Homo sapiens: one gene and its partners. The protein of the gene in region 1 interacts with the protein of each later gene in a biochemical or structural test. Each region holds a gene or a part of one and is shown on either strand. Other genes may lie near its edges. The genes, in order: PDE6D, ARL2 and ARL3.

Evidence for each region.
Region 2: the proteins of PDE6D (region 1) and ARL2 are reported together in a solved structure, tested with the Homo sapiens proteins (2 studies listed by BioGRID and IntAct, with this or other methods).
Region 3: the proteins of PDE6D (region 1) and ARL3 interact in a biophysical measurement, tested with the Homo sapiens proteins (one study listed by IntAct).

What each region holds. Positions count from the first base shown.
Region 1 is NC_000002.12:231,736,278-231,743,378, reverse strand, and holds part of PDE6D (retinal rod rhodopsin-sensitive cGMP 3',5'-cyclic phosphodiesterase subunit delta), read left to right. Parts: intron 1-2,272; exon of another isoform or gene 2,273-2,422; coding exon of another isoform or gene 2,423-2,500; intron 2,501-4,176; coding exon of another isoform or gene 4,177-4,190; coding exon 4,191-4,279; intron 4,280-5,240; coding exon 5,241-5,366; intron 5,367-6,086; coding exon 6,087-6,192; intron 6,193-7,101. UniProt on the Homo sapiens protein: Promotes the release of prenylated target proteins from cellular membranes. Modulates the activity of prenylated or palmitoylated Ras family members by regulating their subcellular location.
Region 2 is NC_000011.10:65,009,569-65,017,260, reverse strand, and holds the start of ARL2 (ADP-ribosylation factor-like protein 2), read right to left. Parts: upstream 3,102-7,692; 5' UTR 3,054-3,101; coding exon 2,989-3,053; intron 1-2,988. UniProt on the Homo sapiens protein: Small GTP-binding protein which cycles between an inactive GDP-bound and an active GTP-bound form, and the rate of cycling is regulated by guanine nucleotide exchange factors (GEF) and GTPase-activating proteins (GAP).
Region 3 is NC_000010.11:102,711,396-102,719,333, forward strand, and holds the start of ARL3 (ADP-ribosylation factor-like protein 3), read right to left. Parts: upstream 3,003-7,938; 5' UTR 2,881-3,002; coding exon 2,878-2,880; intron 2,767-2,877; exon of another isoform or gene 2,403-2,766; coding exon of another isoform or gene 2,400-2,402; intron 1-2,399. UniProt on the Homo sapiens protein: Small GTP-binding protein which cycles between an inactive GDP-bound and an active GTP-bound form, and the rate of cycling is regulated by guanine nucleotide exchange factors (GEF) and GTPase-activating proteins (GAP).

The DNA of each region.
Region 1 (7,101 bases):
GCTCACTGCTCACTGCAACCTCCGCCTCCTCTGTTCAAGCGATTCTCCTGCCTCAGCCTCCTGATTAGCTGGGACTACAGGCGCACACCACCACGCCCAGCTAATTCTTGTATTTTTAGTAGAAACGGGGTTTCACCATGTTGGCCAAGATGGTCTTGATCTCTTGACCTCGTGATCCGCCCGCCTCGGCCTCCAAAAGTGCTGCAATTACAGGCGTGAGCCACGACGCCCAGCCGAGACTTTTCTCGTATAGCAGCAAAACCTAGACAGAATCTCTCCAGAGGGTAAAATATAGTGTTATTACACACATGATGATTCCAGTCAGCTGTGTTGTTTAGGGTTCTTCACTGCAAGCTATTCAAACAATGGGAAAGGGTATCTGAGGCTTTTGGAGCTGCCTGGAAGTTGAAGGACAGGGTCTGTAGCAAAGACCACACAGTAGGAAAGGGCAGGTTGGCATGCCCCTGCTGCCCCCACCCTGAAGAACTTCCAACTCCCTCGAAAGTCCTGTAGCTTCAGGACCCCAGAACTGGGTAGCACGTGTCCAAGGCTAGGCCTTCTTGTGCTCACCCCTGATTATGCCAGGGCTGGGAGAAAAGGATCTGGCCTTTCTAGCTGCTGTAGTGCAAAGCAGTCACTGCCTTCCACAAGGTAGAGACTCTCTTCTTTGGGAAGAGAGTCTGATCACAAGATAGCAAAAAAAGAAAACCAAAAAAAAGACACATGTAAACTATATCTATATTATACATATATTTATCTGCAGCTCAGTCTCTTCGCAAATATTAACGATCTTTTGCAGACAGCCTCTGTGCTTGCATAATGTTAATTTTCTTTTCCTTTAATGGTTTGTCAATTGTTTTTTAAAACAAAACAAAAAAAACCTTAGCACTCTCTTCTTAAAGTTAGTCTTTATTTTTATTAAGTTGTATGTGTTCATCATTTAAAGAATCATAGTCAGCCGGGCAAGGTGGCTCACACCTGTAATCGCAGCACTTTGGGAGGCCAAGGCAAGCGGATCACCTGAGGTCGGGAGTTTGAGACCAGCCTGAACAACATGGAGAAACCCCATCTCCAGTTAAAAATACAAAAATTAGCCGGGCATGGTGGTGCATGCCTGTAATCCCAGCTACTCAGGAGGCTGAGGCAGGAGAATTGCTTGAACCCAGGAGGTGGAGATTGCAGTGAGCCAAGATCATGCCATTGCACTCCAGCCTGGGCAACAAGAGCGAAACCATCTCAAAAAAAAAACAAAAAACACAGTCTATCTAGTTTCTAATGAAGAGCACCACTCCCTGTCCCCCTATTTTCTACTCCCCAGAGAAAACTATTTTCAATCCTTTTTAGCTTATTTATTTGGTATTCATCTTGGTATTTCTAAAAAGCAAAATGTGGCTATGTCGTAATGTTTCCATTTTAGCATTATTTATCCACTTTCCACTACGGAAAATGACAGTTTTGTTGTTTCTCAACATTTCGTGCCTGACTATCCAGATATACATACTCTTGTTCCCCCATCCTCCCAGGTAAATTATATTGGGTGTTAGCATGTGCTTTCATTGTTATGACCATATCAGCACTACTTGCAATGAAGCCATGAGTTATACTATGACTACTTTTTTCTTCCAGTACTACCTTTAATTTTTCTTGATGTCAGTACTTGGATTTTTGTCATTTGCTTAGATTTTCTGTGCTTCTCATGAATTTGACCCCAAAATCTCCCTCTAATTGTATAAATCTCCTTTCCATATAAACACACTAGGTATTCTATGAATTTTATCTTTTTAAAAGAAAATCTCTTCCTGAGCTTTGTGACCTGCTCTAGCCTGGACCCTGGACTAGTCACTCTCCAGACCTGTTAAAGAGCTATTGTCTTGGGATCTTCCTTCACTGTCACTCAGGGGACTCCCTTCAGCTGTTTCTTGCTTGCTATATCCCATGTCATCCCCTTTCTTGGTTTTCTCTGTCATTTTGATGAAGCCATATTTTCCTTAGTTTCTTAAGAAAGCAAATATTTTTTAGTTTGTTTCAGGAATTGTTTCCCTGAAAATTTTAAAGGCCCTGCTAAGTTGTCTCCTACCCTCCAGGGTTCCTTTTGAATTTGATTTATTCTGATTTTTTTTCCTATTCTGATTTGACCCTTTGTATAATGACTTGTTTAACCTCTGGAAGCTTTTCGCTTTTCTTTATCTTTGATATTCTGTAAATGCACTAATGATGTGACTTGGGCATTTGCTACACCCTTTTTTTTTTTTTTTTTTTTTTTTTGAGACAGGGTTTCGCTCTTGTTGAGGCTGGAGTGCAATGGCGCAATCTCCCGGGTTCAAGTGATTCTCCTGCCTCAGCCTCCTGAGTAGCTGGGATTACAGGCAGGCACCACCACGTCTGGCTAATTTTGTGTTTTCGGTAGAGATGGGGTTTCTCCATGTTGGTCAGGCTGGTCTCGAACTCCCGACTTCAGGTGATCCGCCCGCCTCAGCCTCCCAAAGTGCTGGGATTACAGGTGAGCCATCGCTCCTGGCCTAGACACTTTCCATCTACGAAATTTTCTTGAATTAATTTATTGATGCCATCCTCCCCTCTGTTCTCTCTGTTCTACCTTTCTAGAACTTCTATTAGTTAGACACTAGAACTCTTGGACTATTCTTGGACTATAAGTTTTTGTGCCTTTACTCTCCTTTTTTTTTTTTTTTTTTTTTTTGAGACAGGGTCTCCCTCTGTCGCCCAGGCTGGAGTGCAGTCGCATGATCTCGGCTCACTGCAGCATTGATTTTGTGGACTCAGGCAATCCTCTCACCTCAGCCTCCAGAGTAGCTGGGACCACAGGCATGCACCACCATGACTTGTTAATTTTGTATTTTTGTAGAGATGGGGTTTCACCATGTTTCCCAGGCTAATCTCAAACTCCTGAGCTCAAGGAATCCACCCACCTCAGCCTCCCAAAGTGCTGGAATTACAGGTGTGAGCCACCACACTCAGCCTGCTCTCCTGTTTTCTATCCTTGCCTTTTTCGTTCTGAAAGCTTTCTTCAATTTTGTCTTTGTGTTGAGTTGTTTGGTTCTGCTATCAAAATATATGTGTTTCTAGAGTTCTTTTTTGTTCTCTGAATATTCTTTTTTAAATTGGTATTATTGACTCATTTAATGTATGAAACAATACAGAAACTAGAAAATATAAATACTTATGTTAGAAGGCATTTTCTGACAGAGAACATCAGTTAACCAGCTTCATAAGTTGTAACCTCAAACCAGAGAAATTCACCTAAAATATACAGAATTTTATTATATTAATTTTTAGTGTCTGTAAAGGTTATGTCTTATCTCTCTTTTTTAATGCTCCTTTTTAAAACTTATGTCTTTATCTGTAAGCCTCTTTATTCTTCTAAGTTACTTTTTTCTTTTAGTTTGTTTTGGTCTGTCTTTCATAATAAATGCTTTCTTAAATTTCTGTTGATACTTGGCTATCTTCTCATATTTAAAAACAGGGCACTCAGAGGCTGAGGCAGACAGATCACTTGAGGTCAGGAGTTCGAGACCAGCCTGGCCAACATGGTGAAACCCCATCTCTATTAAAAATACAAAAATAAGCTGGGCTTGGTGACGTGCTCCTATAATTCCAGCTACTCAGGAGGCTGAGGCACAAGAATTGCTTGAACCAAGGAGATGAAGGTTGTAGTGAGCCGAGATTGTGCCACTGCATTCCAGCCTGTGTGACAGAGTGAGACTCTGTTTCAAAAAAAAAAAACAGAGGGGGCCACTACAAAGCAATTTGAGAGTTCTGTGCTTGTGGGTGAAGTTTATGGACTGTGGCATTCACTATAGAGTGATCTTCATGAGTTGTTTCCTTGGGGTACATCTGATATTTGTTTCTTTAGGTATTTTATCTTGGTTGGTCAGATCCTGTTGGTAAATTTTAAATTTTGCACTATTCGTTTTCTGTCCCTTTCTTGCAGTCTCTAGGTGTGTGCAGTCTTAGGATTCTCATAGATAAAAGTAACTTCTCTAGGTTTCTGCTTCTTCCTTTAGATGTCTTTTTGACTCTCCTCACATTCTTATGTGCTTCCATGGCAATGAGCAGTTTGACAAACTTTTTAAAAAGTAAACAAGAGTTGGTGGGAGTAAACATGAGACACCTAGAATACAAAGTGGGAGTCACTTTCAGTGCCTTATTTTTCCTTAGTCATATTTGATCAGAAATTGGATGAACCTTCGGGATGCTGAGACAGGGAAGATACTCTGGCAAGGAACAGAAGACCTGTCTGTCCCTGGTGTGGAGCATGAAGGTACTTTCCAACCCTTTATCTACACAGGGCTGTGACCAATGCCAGACTAGCACCTGAGCATAAGAGAGCTAAGTTAACACATACCTAATAGGCGGGTGAGCCCCTGAAGACACAGCATGTTAATCCATGTGTTGTTGACAGTTTCAGTTACTTTCTTTTTTTTTTTTTTTTTTTTTTTTTGAGACACAGTCTTGCTCTATCACCCAGGCTGGATGGAATGCAGTGGTGTGATCTTGGCTCACTGCAACCTCTGCTTCCCAGGTTCCAGCGATTTTCATGCCTCAGCCTCCCGAGTAGCTGGGACTACAGGCGTGCGCCACCACATCTGGCTAATTTTTGTATTTTGAGTAGAGATGGGGTTTCACCATGTTGGCCATCCTGGTCTCGAACTCCGGACATCAAGTGATCTGCCCGCCTCAGCCTCCCAAAGTGCTGGGATTACAGGTGTGAGCCACCACGCCCAGCCAGTTACTTTCTTAACAGTTCTTTCTCTCACTTCCCAAAACCCATTTTGTGCTGATATTTTACCATTAGAACATACCCAAAGATAGAAACTAAGATCTCAACTTTTTCTCCAAAAGAAAATTTGCATTTTTATCTCCCTGAAGTAAAGAAGAAGGAAGGGGTTAAAATCACCAGAACAGAGTAGAGAGAAGGTACCCATGCAGCCCCCTTCCTGATGAGAGTAGTTAGATGAGGCCCTTAGATGCACAAAACCTGGTGTTCCTTGAAGATCTAATATCTTTCAGATACGGGTGACCAATTAGAGACCTCTGCTTTCAGCCACACAAAGTGTAATGCACTTACCAAGGCATTATCCAAAATGTAAGAAAGTGTTCTCTAAATCAGCTGTAAGAAAGTGTTCTCTAAATCAGCTGTAAGAAGCTCCCAGAAATTTGAAGCATCATAGTCCTGTGGTTTTCATTTAGAAAGGCTTCAACATTTGTTTTTCTCTTACCAGCCCGTGTTCCCAAGAAAATCCTCAAGTGCAAGGCAGTGTCTCGAGAACTTAATTTTTCTTCGACAGAACAAATGGAAAAATTCCGCCTGGAACAAAAAGTTTACTTCAAAGGGCAATGCCTAGAAGGTATTCTGCTGCCTACATGCCTGAAATCAGGGCTTAGGGCGACCAGGACAAAAGGCAACAATACCCAGTGAACTAAAGCAGTGCTTTGATAACATTCCTTTTACAACTCAGTTTGTGGTAGGATTCCTACACTCTGCAAGACTGTGAATCCCCAGTGAAACAAACCAAAACAAAGCTAGCCACTACAAGGGGCTTTGAGGTCTCTGACACTGGGAGCGTGGATGGTGGTGCCTGGTTTAGGCACTGACGTTGTATTGTGATATGATCATGGAGGAAGCTGCTATGAGCAGGGCCTAGTACAGTGCTCTACATACAGTATCATACAGATTTGACTGGCAAGGCCACTCTGCATTGAATTCTCACCATGCAGTGTAAAGGGCACATAAGCCCCTTCAAGCTAATTCCAAGTGAATTTAACTATGTATCTATATATAGTTCACATCTAGCCTACCTCTAAGAAAATGCTGCTTATATTGTGTCCTGCTCGCTGGTCCTAGTCCTTTAGACCTCAAAGCATGAGAAGCAAGCCTTTGGTGTGGTTCAGAGGACAACCTGAGCAGGCTTCCCTGTCTTTTTTACGCCCCTGGTCTGAGAGGTTGCTGATAGCTTCCTTTGGTGGTTCTCAGGGTAGGAAGAGGCTCACTCTAGAGAGGGAGACAAAGAGCCCTTAAACTTTATACTGGGGCACCTGCTCACCCCGGCTTTTCCTTCTTCCTTCAGAATGGTTCTTCGAGTTTGGCTTTGTGATCCCTAACTCCACAAATACCTGGCAGTCCTTGATAGAGGCAGCACCCGAGTCCCAGATGATGCCAGCAAGCGTCTTAACGTGAGTGAGCAGGTCTCAGGAAATTATGAAGTGTGTCTAGAAACAGGCATTCCAGGCAGGTGGGACTCCTGGTGCCATTCAGTGGGCAGAGAGCTCGGTTGAGAAATAGAGTAAAAGAGTATCCAAGGGTATCTAGGTTTCCAGGTTCCTGACCTTTTTCATATGAAAAAGACAGTATGATAGAGTAGAAAGAATAAAAAACTAAAAATAAAAATAAAACTTTAGATTAAACCAGATTTAAATTCCTGATTCACCCTGACTACCTGTGTCATCTTGGGCACTAATATACTTTATCTCTCTGAGCCTTAGTCTTTCATCTCTAAACACAGAAATTAATTCTGTCTTACAGAGGTGTAATGAAGATAAAATGTGATGACATGGAAGGAGACTGGCATTTAATATATATACCGAATCTATGTTAATTTGCTCCCATTCCTGACTACCGTACTTCCGGTATCTCTGTATTTTGTTTAGATCACCTTTAACAGAATCTGGCAAAGTCCTATTAATAATTCTGTTTTCGAGGATACTACTTGGTTACAGTTTTTTGGAGAATGGCTTACCATATTAATAGCTTTGGTTCCTGTTCCAAGAACAATTTGTTTGTGCTTTTTCCAAAAACACTGTCAATAACTTCCTACCTCCCATTGTCTGTGGGAAAGATGTTAGTCTCTCAAATGTTATAGTAATAGTACCTTCTAAAGAGTTAGCTGGGCGTAATGGCACACACCTGTAATCCCAGCTACTCAAGAAGCTGAGATAGGAGAATTGCTTGAACCCAGGAGGTGGAGGTTACAATGAGCCAAGATCATGTCACTGCATTCCAGCCTGGGTAGCAGACCAAGACTCTATTTCAAAAAAAAAAGAGTTAGTCCCACAGATAATTGTGTAATATTGGATCATCTCTTT
Region 2 (7,692 bases), on another chromosome or scaffold:
TCACACCACTGTACTCCAGCCTGGGCGACTCAGCGAGACCCCGTCTGATTAAAAAAAAAAAAAGAGCAAACAAAGCCCTTGATCTCTCTGCCCCATCTAGTTATTCATTTATATCTTTCCTTTTACAGGAAATCTCAAAATAGTTGTTTGTGCTCACCCCCATTTCTGCCTTCTTGCTCTTTCAAGAACACACTCCCATCAGGCTTTTGCTGCTGCTGTGGCCAAAACTGTCCTTACCAAGGTCAGTCCCCAAAGACCTCCCTGTGGCCCTCTAGTGCTGGGACAGCGCTCAGTCATCTTCTGTTCCCCACTCAGCACCTGATGGAGTGGCTCACCCTCCTCCCCAGCACATGCGCTGCCCTTGGCACTGGGACACACCCTCACCTGGTTCTGCTCCTCACCTGACTTCATCCTGGTACAACCGGGTTCTCTTCTCTGGCCACGCTCATCCCTGGGTGACCTCATCCAGGATCACAGCTTCAAATACCATCTCTATCCTGATAACACCCAAATGTGCACCTCCCACACACTGGACCTCAGTGCCTACATCCAGCTGCCTGCCTGACACTTCTGGGCTGTCTCGGAGGCATCTCACATGGCACACACAGGCACACACAGGGTTCTCATCTCCACCCTGAACCTGCTCCTCCCCCAGTCCTCTCCATCTCAGCAAATGGTTCCTCACCCTTCTAATTGCTCAGGCCAGAAACTTCCATGACCTCACTACTTCCATCCTGGTCCAAGCCACCATCCTATCTCGCCTGCGTCACTGCAGTGGCCTAACTGGTCTGCGATTCCTTCTCTCCACTGCACTTCTCACTGAAAGGGAAAACCAAAAACCAAAAGGCCCTAGGTGAGGGGGTTCCCAGTCAACGCTCCTCCTCCCCACTCCAGCCATACTGCCCTCCTCACCAGTCCTCTGAACACGCCAGTTAGTCCTCCCAGGGCCTCTGACTTGCTGTTCCCTTTGCTTTAAAGTTTCCCCCCCCCCCGAATTGCTATATGGTTCAACCCTCGCCTCCCTCATGTACTCAATTGTCATTTTTTTTTTTTTTAACAGAGTTTCGCTCTTGTCACCCAGGCTGGACTGCAATGGCGTGATCTCAGCTCACTGCAGTCTCCGCCTCCCGGGTTCTGGCAATTCTCTTGCCTCAGCCTCCCAGGTAGCTGGGATTAAAGGTGTCCACCACCACATCCAGCTAATTTTTGTATTTTCAGTAGAGACGGGATTTCACCATGTTGGCCAGACTGGTCTCAAAACTCCTGACATCAGGCGATCCATCCGCCCCGGCCTTTCAAAGTGCTGGGATTACAGGCATGAGCCACTGCGCCCTGCCATCATACAGTGGCCTTCTTTGACCACCCTAAATTGCATTATTCTCCATACCTATATACGTAGTGGGAGTTCATCCTGGAGCAGTATAAGGCCCTGTTCCCCAGAAGCATGGTCCAAAGCATGGCCCATATATATATAGTATGTATGGAGAATATATATATGTATAAATAGAGACAGAGTCTCACTATGTTGCCCAGGCTGGTCTCAAACACCTGGGCTCAAGCGAACCTCCCACCTCAGCCTCCCAAAGTGCTAGGGTTACAGGTGTGTGCCACCGCACCCAGCCTCTATTACATATTTTACTTACTTCCTGTGTTATCATCTTTCTACCCGCGGGCAACCCCCCCGCCACACACACACACACGCATTACAGAATTTCCATGAAGGTAAGATTTTTTAGTTTTATTACCCTGGGCACTAGGACAGTGTCTAGCACATATTAGGCACTCAATATTTATCAAATGAGTGAACTGTATGCTTTTCTTAGAGCTCTTTAAAGCAGACATGCGGCCCGGCGCAGTGGCTCACGCCCATAATCCCAACAGTTTGGGAGGCCAAGGCGGGTGGATCACTTGAGGTCAGGAATTCGAGAACAGCCTGACCAACAAGGTGAAACCCCGTCTCTACTAACAATATTTAAAAAAATAGCCGGGCGTGGTGGCGGGCACCTGTAATCCCAGCTACTTGGGAGGCTGAGGCAGGAGAATTGCTTGAACTCGGGGGGCGGAGGTTGCAGCGAGCTGAGATTGTGCCACTGCACTCCAGCCTGGGCAACAAGAGCGAAACTCCGTCTCAAACAAAACAAAATAAAACAGACATGGGCCGGACTCCGTGGCTCATGCCTATATTCCCAGAGTTTTGGGAGGCTGAGGCAGGAGGATCACTTAAGCCTAGAAGCTGGAGGCTGCGGTGAGCCTTGATTGTGCCACTGCACTCCAGCCAGGGCAACAGAGCAAGACCCTGTCTCAAAAAACAAAACAGTCATGATGTGATTATTAAGTTATATGTGCACGTAAGCGTCTTATCTCCCCAGCCATTCCCCCGCGGAGCCTGGCACAGAGCTGGGGGAACAGGTGCGGGCGCCTAACTGGACTCAGAAGGCGCACAGGGCGCACGGGACACTCGGGCCCACACACACACATCCTCAGCCGCAGGGACAACCACGGGCCGCGTAACACCAAAGAGACGGACTGTTGGATCCACGCTCGAAAGGATCCGCGGAGCCCACACGCGCCACCCGCCACCCCGCACGCCCCCGGGATTCGGAGCTCGAGGGCGGGGCCGGGGCCTGGAACCCTCGGGCCCGGGGGAGGAGATCAGAGCCGGGAGGGCAGCGGCCCCACGCTTGGGCCAGGCCGCCGGGTGGTGGCGTCCGAGTTATCTCCGGGACCCACCACCCCTGACACTCGGGCCGCCTAGCCCCGCCGCTGCGCCTGCAGGACCGCTTCTGCGGCCCTCGGAGCTGGCCCCTGCCCCAGTCCTGGGGTGCGGCTCCTCCCGGCCCGACGGGGCGATTGATGGGGCCCGCGTGGTGACGCCAGGGGCAGTTGGGACGCGCCGGCCGCCGCGTTCCGCTCCCGACAGGGGGCGCCCGGCACCGCCTGCCCGGCTGGACCCCGCCACCCTCGCGGTTCCGGCGTCCGGTAGGATACAGCATGAGCAGTCGCAGCTCCCGCTCTTTCTGCTTCATCTTCTTCAGAATGGTCAGGAGCCCCATGGTCCCCGGAGCCCCCTCCCGGCCGCCGTTTCTTCCCAGTCCCGGGACCCCGCTCCCGGTTCCTGTTGGCTATCACGCTCGCCGACGGCATAGTCGATTGGCCGGACGCTCGTTTGGTCCCGCCCTTGCCGCACGTGACCGCGAGGTCGCCCGCGCAGCTGCTGCGAGGGTCCCTCTAGCGGCGCGGGGGGTTTCTGTGCTGCCGCCCGCCCTGACGCTGCGCCTCCCGAGGGCTGAGGCTGGGGGAGCAAGGGCGACTCCCCCACCCTTTCCCCTGCCGGACTGGGGCTCTTGGCCGGAGCGGAAACCTTGAAGTTCCTGAGTTGCATCTTGGCTGCGTCTGACCTGAGAGTCAGAACCCAGGGCCCCCAGGTACGGACGAACTCATCCTGGGGCCAGTGTAGGCCCCCGTTCCCAGCAACACAGTCCAAATCCTGCTCATCTGGGCCCTCGGCATCATCCTCTGACAGAGCGGAAAGTTGGGCCTCCCCCTACCCGGCTCCGGTGGCTCTCAGTTCAGGGCGGCGGTGCCCCCTGGAGGCCGTTCGGAAACATGCGGGGCGTCCCTGGGTTCCAATGACGGAATTGCAGTCCCGCCCCAAAGGCTGCCCCCACCCAGAGGCCCAGCGTTTCCCTGTTCAGAAGCACAGTTCCTACTTTTGCAGATGGAAAAACTGAGGCCCAGATGGTGCTTAGCACAGTGGCTGGCATGTAGTAGGTGCTCAATAAATATTTGTTGTTGAATGAATGGCTTTGTCCAAGAGTTTCATTCTTTACTTTAGCGCTCAAGAAGTCCAGAAGAAGTGAGGAAATAGGTCAAGGACCAAGCCCTTTTGTAAACTCAGGAGACAGCCTTATTGCTGCAGGTAAGTGTGGATAGGCAGCACGGAAGAGCCTCTCTCATGCTTGGGAAAGAGCTGTCAGCACCAGCTGAGGACAATAGCTAACTCCTGTGTAACTGTTTGCAACGCACTTCACGTGTTCAGCTTCATCCTCCCTGCAACCCTGAGAGGTTTATATTCTTTTCGTAGCTATGATAATGGAATCCAGAGTGTTTAAGGAGCATGGGTGAGATTCAAACTCAGGTCTAGTAAATGGTAAAGCACAATGTCTTCATGCCTCCATGAAGTTTGCCTAGAGAGAGGTCTGGAAGAAGCTGGAGCTTCCCATCTTGCAGAAAGGGGCTTGTGGTCAGAGGAGGGCTGAACAGATAGGCTGCCTGAGTGGGACCCTTCGGTCAGCACCATTTACCCTCCATCACACACACACAAGGAAGAAAGTGAGCATATCGCCTACCCAGAGGCTTCGAAATGCAGCTAAGATCAAAATGGGAAATGCTGGCCGGGCGCCATGGCTCACGCCTGTAAACCCAGCACTTTGGGAGGCCGAGGCAGGTGGATCACGAGGTCAGGAGTTCAAGACCAGCCTGGCCAACATGGTGAAACCCCGTCTCTACTAAGAATACAAAAAATTAGCTGGGCGTGGTGGCGGCACCTGTAATCCCAGCTATTCGGGAGGCTGAGGCAGAGAATTGCTTGAACCCAGGAGACGGAGGTTGCAGTGAGCCGAGATTGTGCCACTGCACTCCAGACTGGGTGACAGAGTGAGACTCCGTCTCAAAAAAAAAAAAAAAAAAAAAAAAGAAATGTCTAGAGGTAGGAGCCTGCCATCCTGCTTCTAGGAGCCTGCACCACAGACATTCTGGCACTGCACAGGAACAACGAAGTTCACTGTGGCATGGTTTGGAACAGCAAGAAATTGGAAAAAACCTAAGTGCCTCCAGTGAGGGCAGGTTACCTGAGCCGGGGTAGGTGCATGTGAATTCATGAAGCCCTTAAAACAGTGAAGTGGGCCAGGCGCAGTGGCTCATGTCTAATCCCAGCACTTTGGAAGGCAGAGGTGAGTGGATTGCTTGAGCCCAGGAGTTCAAGACCAGCCTGGCCAACTTAGGGAGACTCCCATCTCTATAAAAAATACAAAAATTAGCCAGACATGCTCACTTCAACCCAGGAGGCGAAGGTTGCAGTGAGCTGAAATTGTGCCACTGCACTCCAGCCTGGGCGAAATTGTCTGTCTCAAAAAAAAAAAAAAAAATTAGGTGTAGTGGTGCACATCGGTAGTTCCAGCTACCTAGGAGGCCAAGGTGGGAACCAGGGAGGATAAGGCTGCAGTGAGCCGTGATCATGCCACTGCACTCTAGCTTTCATGACAGAGTTAGACCGTCTCAAAGAAACAGAAAACAGTGAGGTGGAGCTGTAAGATACCAGTGTGGAAAGATGTCCGCGCCATATTAAATGAAAAACAAAAACAAAAATTCAGTCCTCTTTTAGTTTTAAAAATAATATTAACTGGAAATATGCCCACTTAGCAATGTTTTTTAATCTATGAGATGCATTCCATTAAGGAAGTGGATTGTAAAATTAGTGTCACAAATAGGTTGAACTGTATGAAATTGCCCATATTTGACAGTTTTGATACACAGATGTATTTCAAATGGTTCAACCTAGTAGCATTAACAAAAATGAAATAGAATGAACAGAACTGAAAACATTACTACCTTTACCCACGTAGTAAAGCTAAGTAGCGTTTGGTGAAACATTTGTTTTAGATATTTATACAGATATGTGTACTTCTCACTGTGAATCACAGTCACAAAAGTTTGAAAATCAGGGCAATGAAGTTTGGGAGAACATAAAATTATTACCTTGGGTGTGTCTATATTTTCTTTTTTTCTTTGAGACAGAGTCTGGCTCTGTCACCCAGGATGGAGTGCAGTGGCACAATCCTGGCTCACTGCAACCTCTGCCTCCCAGGTTCAAGCTATTCTCCTGCCTCAGCCTCCTGAGTAGCTGGGATTACAGGCATGAGCCACCATGCGCGGCTAATTTTTATATTTTCAGTAAAGACAGGGTTTCACCATGTTGGCCAGCTGGTCACAAACTCCTGGCCTCAAGAGATTTGCCTTCCTCAGCCTCCCAAAGGGCTGGGATTACAGGTGTGAGCCACCGCACCCAGCCTCGGATTGTTTTATTTCCTACCAGTAGCATTGAAAGAACTTGTTCAAATGTCTGGCTTAAAGTCTTGCCTGTCCATGCTGTTGTTCCCAGGGGCCACATGGTAGAATTTCAGTGAATATAAATTAAAAAAATAAAAATAAACAACATCCAAGCTCTGTGAAAAAGGGGGAGTTCAGGAAGTAACTATGTTTAGCTTTTTTTTTTTTTTTTTTGAGACAGAGTCTTGCTCTGTCGCCCAGGCTGGGGTGCAGTGGCGCAATCTCAGCTCACTGCAAGCTCCGCCTCCCGGGTTCACACCATTCTCCTGCCTCAGCCTCCCGAGTAGCTGGGACTAAAGATGCCCGCCACTATGCCTGGCTAAGTTTTTGTATTTTTAGTAGAGACGGGGTTTCACCGCGTTAGCCAGGATGGTCTCGATCTCCTGACCTCGTGATCCGCCAGCCTTGGACTCCCAAAGTGCTGGGATTACAGGCGTGAGCCACCGCGCCCGGCCAACTATGTTTAACTTTTTAAACATATTTTAGAGACAGGGTCTCACTCTGTCACCCAGGCTGGAGTGCAGTGGCACAATCATGGCTCACTGCAGCCTCAAGCAGTCCTCCCACGTCAGTCTCCTGAGTAGCTGGGACTACAGGTGCATGCCATCAAGCCCGGCTAATTTTTTAAATTTTTTGTAGAGACGAGGGTCTCGCTGTGTTACCCGGGCTGGTCTTGAACTCCTGTGCTTAGGTGATCCTCTCACCTCAGACTTCCAAAGTGCTGGGATTACAGGCATGAGCCACCCCACTTGGCCTGTGTTTAACTTTTGAAGAACTGACTGTAGCTAGAAATTGGGTGGAGAGGCATTTAAAGACAAGTAAGGGGCCTCATTACGAGCTGTGTTTTCATTTGCCTCATGGAAAGGAGGAGAGCTCTTTTTTTTTCTTTTTTTTTTTTTTGAGACGAAGTTTTGCTCTTGTTGCCCAGGTTGGAGTGCAATGGCAAAATCTCGGCTCACTGCAACCTCCATCTCCCAGGTTCAAGCGATTCTCCTGCCTCAGCCTCCCAAGTAACTGGGATTACAGGTGTGCACCACCACACCTGGCTAATTGTGTATTTTTAGTAGAGACGGGGTTTCACCATGTTTGTCAGGCTGGTCTCAAACTCCTGACCTCAAGTCATCCACCTCGGCCTCCCAAAGTGCTGAGATTACAGGCAAGAGCCAATGCACCTGGCTTTTTTTCTTTCTTTTTTTTTTACTTTCAAGCAGAGGAGCAGAAGAGCACTCTTAAATAAAATCTTTGGGAAATACCTTTGGAAGAAAACTAGGAAAGAAGATGTATAGAGCTGTAGTTATATATAATTGTGAATATGAATATATATATATATTTTTTTTTCACAAGAAAGAATCGTGAAATTAAAATACCCAAATCGTGACATCTGTGAAACCTGCTTTTGAAGGGGAAACTTCTTAGGGCCGAGTAAGTGGCTTGTAACTTGAGGATAGAGATCTACAGCCTTTTAACAAGGCATGTTTACCCAACGTCTAGAAAGAAAAATTTGGCATTATTATTATTTTTAAGACAGGGTCTCACATTATTATTATTATTATTATTATTATTATTATTATTTTTGAGACAGGT
Region 3 (7,938 bases), on another chromosome or scaffold:
GTGTGTGTGTGTTTTTATATATATATATGTATATACATAACACTGCACACAGTTTCAGCTAGAAAATAGGAACAGGCCGGGCGCGGTGGCTCACGCCTGTAATCCCGGCACTTTGGGAGGCCGAGGCGGGCGGATCACGAGGTCAGGAGATACAGACCATCCTGGCTAACATGGTGAAACCCCGTCTCTACTAAAAACACACACACACAAAATTAGCCGGGCGTGGTGGCGGGCGCCCATAGTCCCATCTGCTGCGGAGGCTAAGGCAGGAGAATGGCGTGAACCCGGGAGGCGGAGCTTGCAGTGAACGGAGATCGCGCCACTGCACTCCAGTCTGGGTGACAGAGCAAGACTCCGTCTCAAAAAAAGAAAAAAAAAAGAAGAAAACAGGAACAATACTTACATCTCAAGAGATGATGCTATGAGGATGAAATGAGGTCATGTATGTAAAGCATGACACATAACAGCCACTGAAAAGACTACCCTCGTGTTTTGTTTATTTTTTTAAAATAATTTTTCACGGGCCATTTTCTAACCAGAAAACATAAGTAACTGTTGGGAACAATCTTCAAATGTTGAACATGCTTGAGAACGACCACAAGCTCCATATATGTAGAAAGTGCTCCATAAATAATTACTGAATGAAGGAATCATATGTTAAATATAAGTGGTTAGTTACGTGCTAAAATTACTGTCATTTTAGTATTTTAGTAATTCATCAAGAACCTGGCACTGTAAAGCAGGGGTAAAATAGCTGACTCTAAATGTTCAGAGAAACCCATATTTGGGTTTTTGCCACAGTTACCCAAATTTGAAAAAAAATATGTATTTGTCACAGCTGAAGTTTAAAACAAAAACCAAAAAAACCTTGGGGTTCACGCTTCAGTTGTACAGTTAACCATGGGGGCTCATGGGATACCAGATGGGATACACTTAAGTCACACGACTGACTAAATTCAGTGTTTCACTTCAAGTTTTAAGAACAGCTCACGCTTGTGGAGATAGAAAAAAAATGTTTTTGGGAAACCAGATAAAGAATCCGGAATAATTTGTCTTAATTTCTTATTGTTCATCTTAGGAAAAAGGAAAAAAGAAAAACAAAATCTGTTTTCATCATTGAACACAACAGTTGTATACAACAGTGTTGTATATACACTGTAAATTTGTTGTATACTGTGCCAATTTGCACCTGGAAACATGGGCAGTGGTTAATTTACTGTGGCCTGTAATTATAAATTAAACAATCATGGATTACACAGTACACTTAATTGATCAACAAACTGGGAAAAGTTAGCCAACTCTCATGCACTTCTCATCCATAATGATGAATCTCAATCTCTGTTGGTTCGGCATGCCCTTTTCATTCCAATTCTAGCTATTTTCTGGGTAAATATTTATGTTTGTACTCATTTGTTGAGAAAAACTTTAACTTTAAAAGGACAGCTCACGTATAAATGATTAAGAAAAAGAAACAGTTGTAAAAATCTGTTTAGCCTGAGGTTAAAAAAAAACTGCAAGTGTAGCAAGTGTGAAATGTGATTGGCAACTTCAGATCAAATAACCCTACTTCTTTAACAATCTGACAATGTAAAATCAATTGAGTTTTTTTTTTCCTTTCTAAATCTACTCACTGGATAATCTGACCAAACATACATCTATTTTTTTTTTTCCTGGGCATCTAGTTTTTTTGTTTTTTTTTTTACTTCTTAAATCAACAGAAATGGCTCAACATTTCTAAAAGTCAAGAAAGGAACTAGGAAGAGAGTTGGAGCAGTGACTATAAGTTTGATGACAGGCTCTTTGCAGCCAACTAACCTGCTTTAAGTGTTCAAAATCAATTTTTCTTTGATAGCTCTAAAATTACTCAATTCCATTTTAACTCCCTCCAACTAACTGTACAGACATTAACAAGAAACAGAGTGTCAACGGTCAGATCTGTCACAACCATAATTTAGAATTTGGGAAAGCTTTAATTGGGACTGACAGAGAAAAGCCTTGCCCCGGATTGAAGTTCGATCTCCATTTTTAACTTCTCGTTCTTTTCAGTTTGGAGAACTCAAGCTAGGATTAAGATCTTTTGGTCCTGGTATGGTCACACGCAAGAGGAGACTGCAAAAGGTTTCGAAGGAAATTCTAGAGACGGAGCAGCTAATATGTCTTCATCAACATGGATTATGTATTGAATGAAAAATCGGTCATCACCAACAATCAGATCCTGCAAAACTCTCAGCAAATAACTAAATAATTCGGGACTGAGGAAGCGCACCCGCCACGCAGACACCAAGACGGCGTAAAATCCACCAGGCATCCCTTCCAAGCGGCACCCCTTTGTGTCGTGGGACTTACTTCCCTACCCCCCAGGGGCCCGCACAGCGCGAGAAGGAGGAGAGCTAGGCTACCATCTCCCCTGCTACCGCCAGGGCGACCTCAGAGCCAATGGGGCCGGCCTTCTCTCCGCTTCTGGCCGGGCTCCAGACGAACCCCACTTTACTGCAAAGCCGCGAGACCGATTGCCCGGGAAGTCTAAGCCTGCTAGCGAAAGCTGCTCTCCGCAGTTCCTGGGATCCGCCCTCACCCCTGTCCCCAGAGTAATGATGGAGCCCGGGCTCCGCACCCGGCCAGCCGCGCACTCTGCCAGCCCCTTCCCCAAGCCTCGGACCCGCTGCAAGCCCCGCCTTCCTCTCCAGGCCCAGGCCTCCCTCCAGGGCCCACCCTCGGGTCTCCCCGCCGACCCCCGAAATCAGTCCACAACCCAGATAGCAGGCTGAGCGACGTCCCATTCCCTCCTTGGCTTTAAGCGCAGTGCTCCGCCCTGGGCCTGGGGACGGGAGGGGGATAACCGGCCGGCTCCAAGGGGGCCCAGGCCCCCACACTCACCATCCTCCCGCCGAGTCCCTCCTCCTCCTCCTCCTCCTGCTGCCTCCCCCGTTACCAGGGGCAACTGCTGCGGCGCCGCCCCCGACGTCCCTCGCACGCACAGCTGAGGAGCTGAGCAGCAATACGGGGCGGGGTGCAGCTCCGCTTTCCCCAGAGTGCGCAAGTGCGCTAAGGCGCCCGCCCACGCAGTGGGCGGGCTACGGGAGCTGCAGAGGCCGCCGCCGGCTCGCCTGGACCAGGGAGTGGAGAAAGCCTGCCCACGTGGCTGGCGGGAGCCTCCCGGCCTGGGATTGGTCGAAAAGGAGGGGCGTGGGGCGGGCGTGGGGGCAGTTCCCCAGCCCAGGTCCTCCTCTCACCCGGGCCAGTTTTCAAGGCGGGCTGTAACTGGTGGCATTTGTCCCGGGACCAGGTAAGGGGCCTTGGGACAATGGCGCTCGCCCTGTCTACCTCCAATCCCCACATCTCGGGTGGGTGCTGAGATTGCTGTCCTGACTGCCCAGGCGGGGCTGCAGCGCGGGCTGGACTTCCACCTGCAGAAGCCACGTGGCGCGAAGTGCGCCCTGGGGCTGCAGATGGGCCCCTCTGCTCTGACCCCCATTGCCTAGGAGTGCCAGGCCGAGCGGCTGGGGCGTTACGAGCTGTCCGGGATGGGGGAGTACCGATGGGGGGAGGCCGTCTGTCGGAGGGCAAGAAGCAGCCTGGGGGCTGGCCCTGAGCCCTGAGGTGAGCTGAAAGCACAGGTGAAAGGCGTTTTGGGGATCGGCCCGGTTTTTGTTTTGACACAGGGTGTCGCTCTGTCGCCCGGGCCGGAGTGCGGTGGCGCGATCTCGGCTCACTGCAGCCTTTGCCTCACAGGCTTAAGCGATTCTCCCGCCTCAGACTCTCGAGTAGCTGGGATTGCAGGCGGGCGCCACCACGCCTGGATAATTTTTTGTATTTTGTTTTTGTAGAGACGGAGTTTCGCCATGTTGCCCAGGCTGGGCTCGAACTCCTGGGGTCAAGCCATCCGCCCGCCTAGGCCTCCCAAAGTGCTGAGACTACAGGTGTTCCAAAGTGGTGAGCCACTGTGCCCAGCCTCTGGCCGGTTTTGCTAAGCTGCTTTGGACAGGACCGCGTACCATCTGTAGTCCTGGAGGAGGCAAAAATGAGCCTGCATTTTTAGCCAAGGAAGAGCAAGTGGGACACTGGGGTGGGTTGGGAAGTGCTACCTCCCATCCCTTTCCCGATGCAGAGGACTATAAGAAGAGTTTACACAAACGTGCTAGGCCCTGTTCTAGACGCTGGAGACACAGCAGTGGACAAAATCAGCCCGTATGGAAATTACATCCTTCCTAATGAAATACATTTCATACCAAATTTCATTTTCACAACCCCTAGAAATTGGTAATTGCGGCCAGGCGCAGTGGCTCATGCCTATAATCCCAGCACTTTGAGAGGTGGAAGGGGAGGAAGGCTTGAGCCCAGGAGTTGGAGACCAGCCCGGGCAACACAGTAGGACCCTGCCTCTACAAAAAAAAATTTTTTTTAATTAGCCAGGTTCCGTGGCGCACTTGTAGTCCTAGCTACTCGGGAGGTTGAGGCTGGAGGATTGCTTGAGCCCAGGAGCTATTATCACATCACTGTACTCCAGCCTGGGTGAAAGAGCAAGACCCTGCCTCAAAAAAAAAAAAAAAAATGAAAACAAAAATCAACATCTGCTGCTTGCATACCTGCTTCAGATCCTTGGAGAGAAAAAGCAGTTCAGAGCCTTGACTAAGGAGGTGATGAATGGAGGTGATACAGGAGCACAAACCCCTATAATCTACTCATCTCCAGACTGTTGGCCCTTTTGTGAAAAAGGCAAGGGAGGTTGCTCTTTCTAAGTTGTCTGGTGCCTAACAGCCCACTTGCCTTGGAGTCAGACGAGTACCCATAAGCCTATACCTGGGCCTGCTCTTGTAATTATTACCCTCATTTTCCAGCTTGCTCTAGGCAGCCTTGACCTTAATCCTTGCCTGTCTCAGTGGTCTTTGTGTCTGACCTTCTGGGGTCTTTGGCTACCTTGATCTTCCTCTGATGTGAGTACCAGCGATGATGTTTCGTTTTTCTCCCTACCTGGGGCTACAAACAGTAATCTTGTGCACTTCTGCTTGTAAGAGGATACCTCAGAAGGAATTTGGAAGCTTGTTTTCTGATCTCTGATACCATTTGCCAGAGAAAATCTGCTCTTTCTGGGAAGGATGAGCATTACGTCAGAGGTGGCAGTAGTCTATTACTTTTTTTTTCTCTTTGTTTCCCTCTCTTTCTTTCCTTTTTTTTTTTTTTTTTTTTTTTGAGATGGAGTTTCACTCTTATTGCCCAGGCTGGAGTGCAACGGTGCGATCTCGGCTCATCACAACCTCCACCTCTCGGGTTCAAACGATTCTCCTGCCTTAGCCTCCCAAGTAGCTGGGATTACAGGTATGCACCACCACGCCTGGCTAATTTTTTATTTTTAGTAGAGACGGGGGTTTCTCCATGTTGGTCAGGCTGGTCTTGAACTCTCAACCTCAGGTGATCTCTCTGCTTTGGGCTCTCAAAGTGTTGGGATTACAGGTGTGAGCCACCGTGCCAGGCCTCGGAGTTGGCAAGTAGGCTATAGTGGATAGAGGACCTTGGGGAAGTAAGGCCTTAGCTGTTGTCCAATCTTTGAGGACTGGATCTGTTGATTGTTCGTGTTTATATCTGCTGCAAGCGCTTAGTGCAGGGCCAAGTGTATCAAAAATGCCCACTGTGGTGGCCCAATCCATGTGCACCTTTCTAGGCTTCAGTTTCCTCTTCTGTAAACTGAGATCTTAGATCACATGTCTTCAGGCTATGACATTCTCTCTCTCTTTTTTTTTTTTTTTTTTTTTTGTGGAGACGGAGTCTCGCTCTGTCACCCAGACTGGAGTGCAGTGGTGCGATCTTGGCTCACTACAACCTCCGCCTCCCGGGTTCAAGCGATCCTCCTTCCTCAGCTTCCTGAGTAGCTAGGATTACAGGTGCGTGCCACCACGCCTGGCTAATTTTTTGTATTTTTAGTAGAGACAGAGTTTCACAGGGTTAGCCAGGATGGTCTCGATCTGACCTCGTGATCCGTCCGCCTCGGCCTCCTAAATTGCTGGGATTACAGGCGTGAGCCACTGCGCCCGGCCTCAAGCTGTGACATTCTCTAATCCTAGGAGGGAGATATCATTAAATCACTGGTCTGATTTTTACTCCTACTTTGTTCCTAGTAGTGGGACCATACAGAAGTGGGGCTACCCTGGACATGATGATGACCTTTTTAGGGAAGACTAGATGTGGCTTGTGTGGGAGGAGGGACAGTAACTGTAGAAGAAAATTTAGAGACCAGTATGACTTAGTACAGGCAAGGTAGACAGTTTTGCAACTTCATGAAAGAAAGCGTGCTCTTAATTCTGTAACCTAGGCAGGTTCTAAGTTTGACTTAAAAGAGGTGACATCCTTGATGCCAAGAGACCCAAGAAGAAGTTGGAATGCATTTCAGGTAAGCAGTAAATATTCTTCGAGGGCATGTGAAACATGTAGCAGTAAACATCACAGACATGATCCCGATGCTTGTGAGCCTTACAGTCTGTCAGGGGAGGCAGACTTTACACAAATCACAGTCAATGACAAGAAGGTGACAATCACAAACGCCCAGCATGCTGCAAAGGACAGGATGCTGTAGGAGTATATATCACAGAAGGATTTGAGTTTGTCCTGAAGGAGTCGGGGAAGAGTGCCCATTGGGGGACAGTGGGTGTGTGGGGGGAAATGTTCCAGACAGATCGTTTAGTGTTTTTTTTGTTTTGTTTTTGTTTTGGCTTTATGTTTTATTTAAGACAGGGACTCTGCAGTTTCTATCCTGACTTCAATTAAGAAGGCAAAGGCTCTTGCATAATTAGCAAATGTTTAGATTACCCCTTGATGATAGTCCCTCCATTCTGAGAAGCAGAGGACTTTGCAATGTTGTGTTAAGGTGAACAGAGATGTCAGAGAAGGTCTGGCTCTGTGTGTATGTGTGTGCTGAGGGGGAGGCATAGCATTTTGCTCAGTCAGGCTGTCTCCAGCATGTATGAGCCTGGGGCTCTGTAAGCCAAGGCAGCGTGTGTTCAGCCAGCCAAGCTGACTCCTTTTAGGTTCATGTAGAGCATGGGAAAGTGAACTCTTTCCCCTCCTCCCACTCTTGCTTCAGCTGGGACTGAGATAAATGCCTTTGGTCTTTGAAGCAGCCTGCAGGAGGCCAGGTGGCAGGGAGAGGGGAAGTCTGTTTTGGCAGTGGACTCTTTCTGTCTGCCTTCTGACTTCTCTGGAGATTGCCGCTTCAGAGAAGCATCGGGGCCAGGCCAGGGCGCTGTGGATACTCCATATTGAGCCTCTCCTCTTGTTCCTGGTCTTTCCTCTTAGGAAATGGCGTACCTCCAGCATATCAGCTTCCTGATGTCTCTTCCGCCTTAACGAAAAATCTAAAAATTGACCACTGCTCTTCCTTCCCCAACACTGTCCCTTCTGCCTCCTTTCTTGAACTTGAACTCCTGGCCTCCCAAAGTGCTGGGATTACAGGCCTGTGCCTGTCTCCACCTCCTTTCTCTCTTCTTTCTGGTGGTTCTTCCCATCTTTGGGGGCTTCCTTTTCTCGGCTTCTTTTTTTTTTTTTTTTTTTTTTTTGAGACAGGGTCTTGCTATGTTGCCAAGATGGAGTGCAGTGGCGCCATCTCGGCTCGCTGCAACCTTCACCTCCCGGGTTCAAGTGATTCTCCTGCCTCAGCCTCCCAAGTAGCTGGGATTACAGGCGCCTGCCACCACGCCCGGCTAATTTTTTGTATTTTTAGTAGAGACAGGGTTTCACCATGTTAGCCAGGCTGGTCTCAAACTCCTGACCTCGTGATCCGCCCGCCTCAGCCTTCCAAAGCACTGGGGTTACAGGCATGAGCCACCGTGCCCGGCCTCAGCTTCTTTTTTTTTGAGACAGAGTCTCACTCTGTTGCCCAGGCTGGAGTACAGTGGCACAATCTCGGCTCACTGCAACCTCCGCCTCCTGGGTTCAATCAATTCTTGT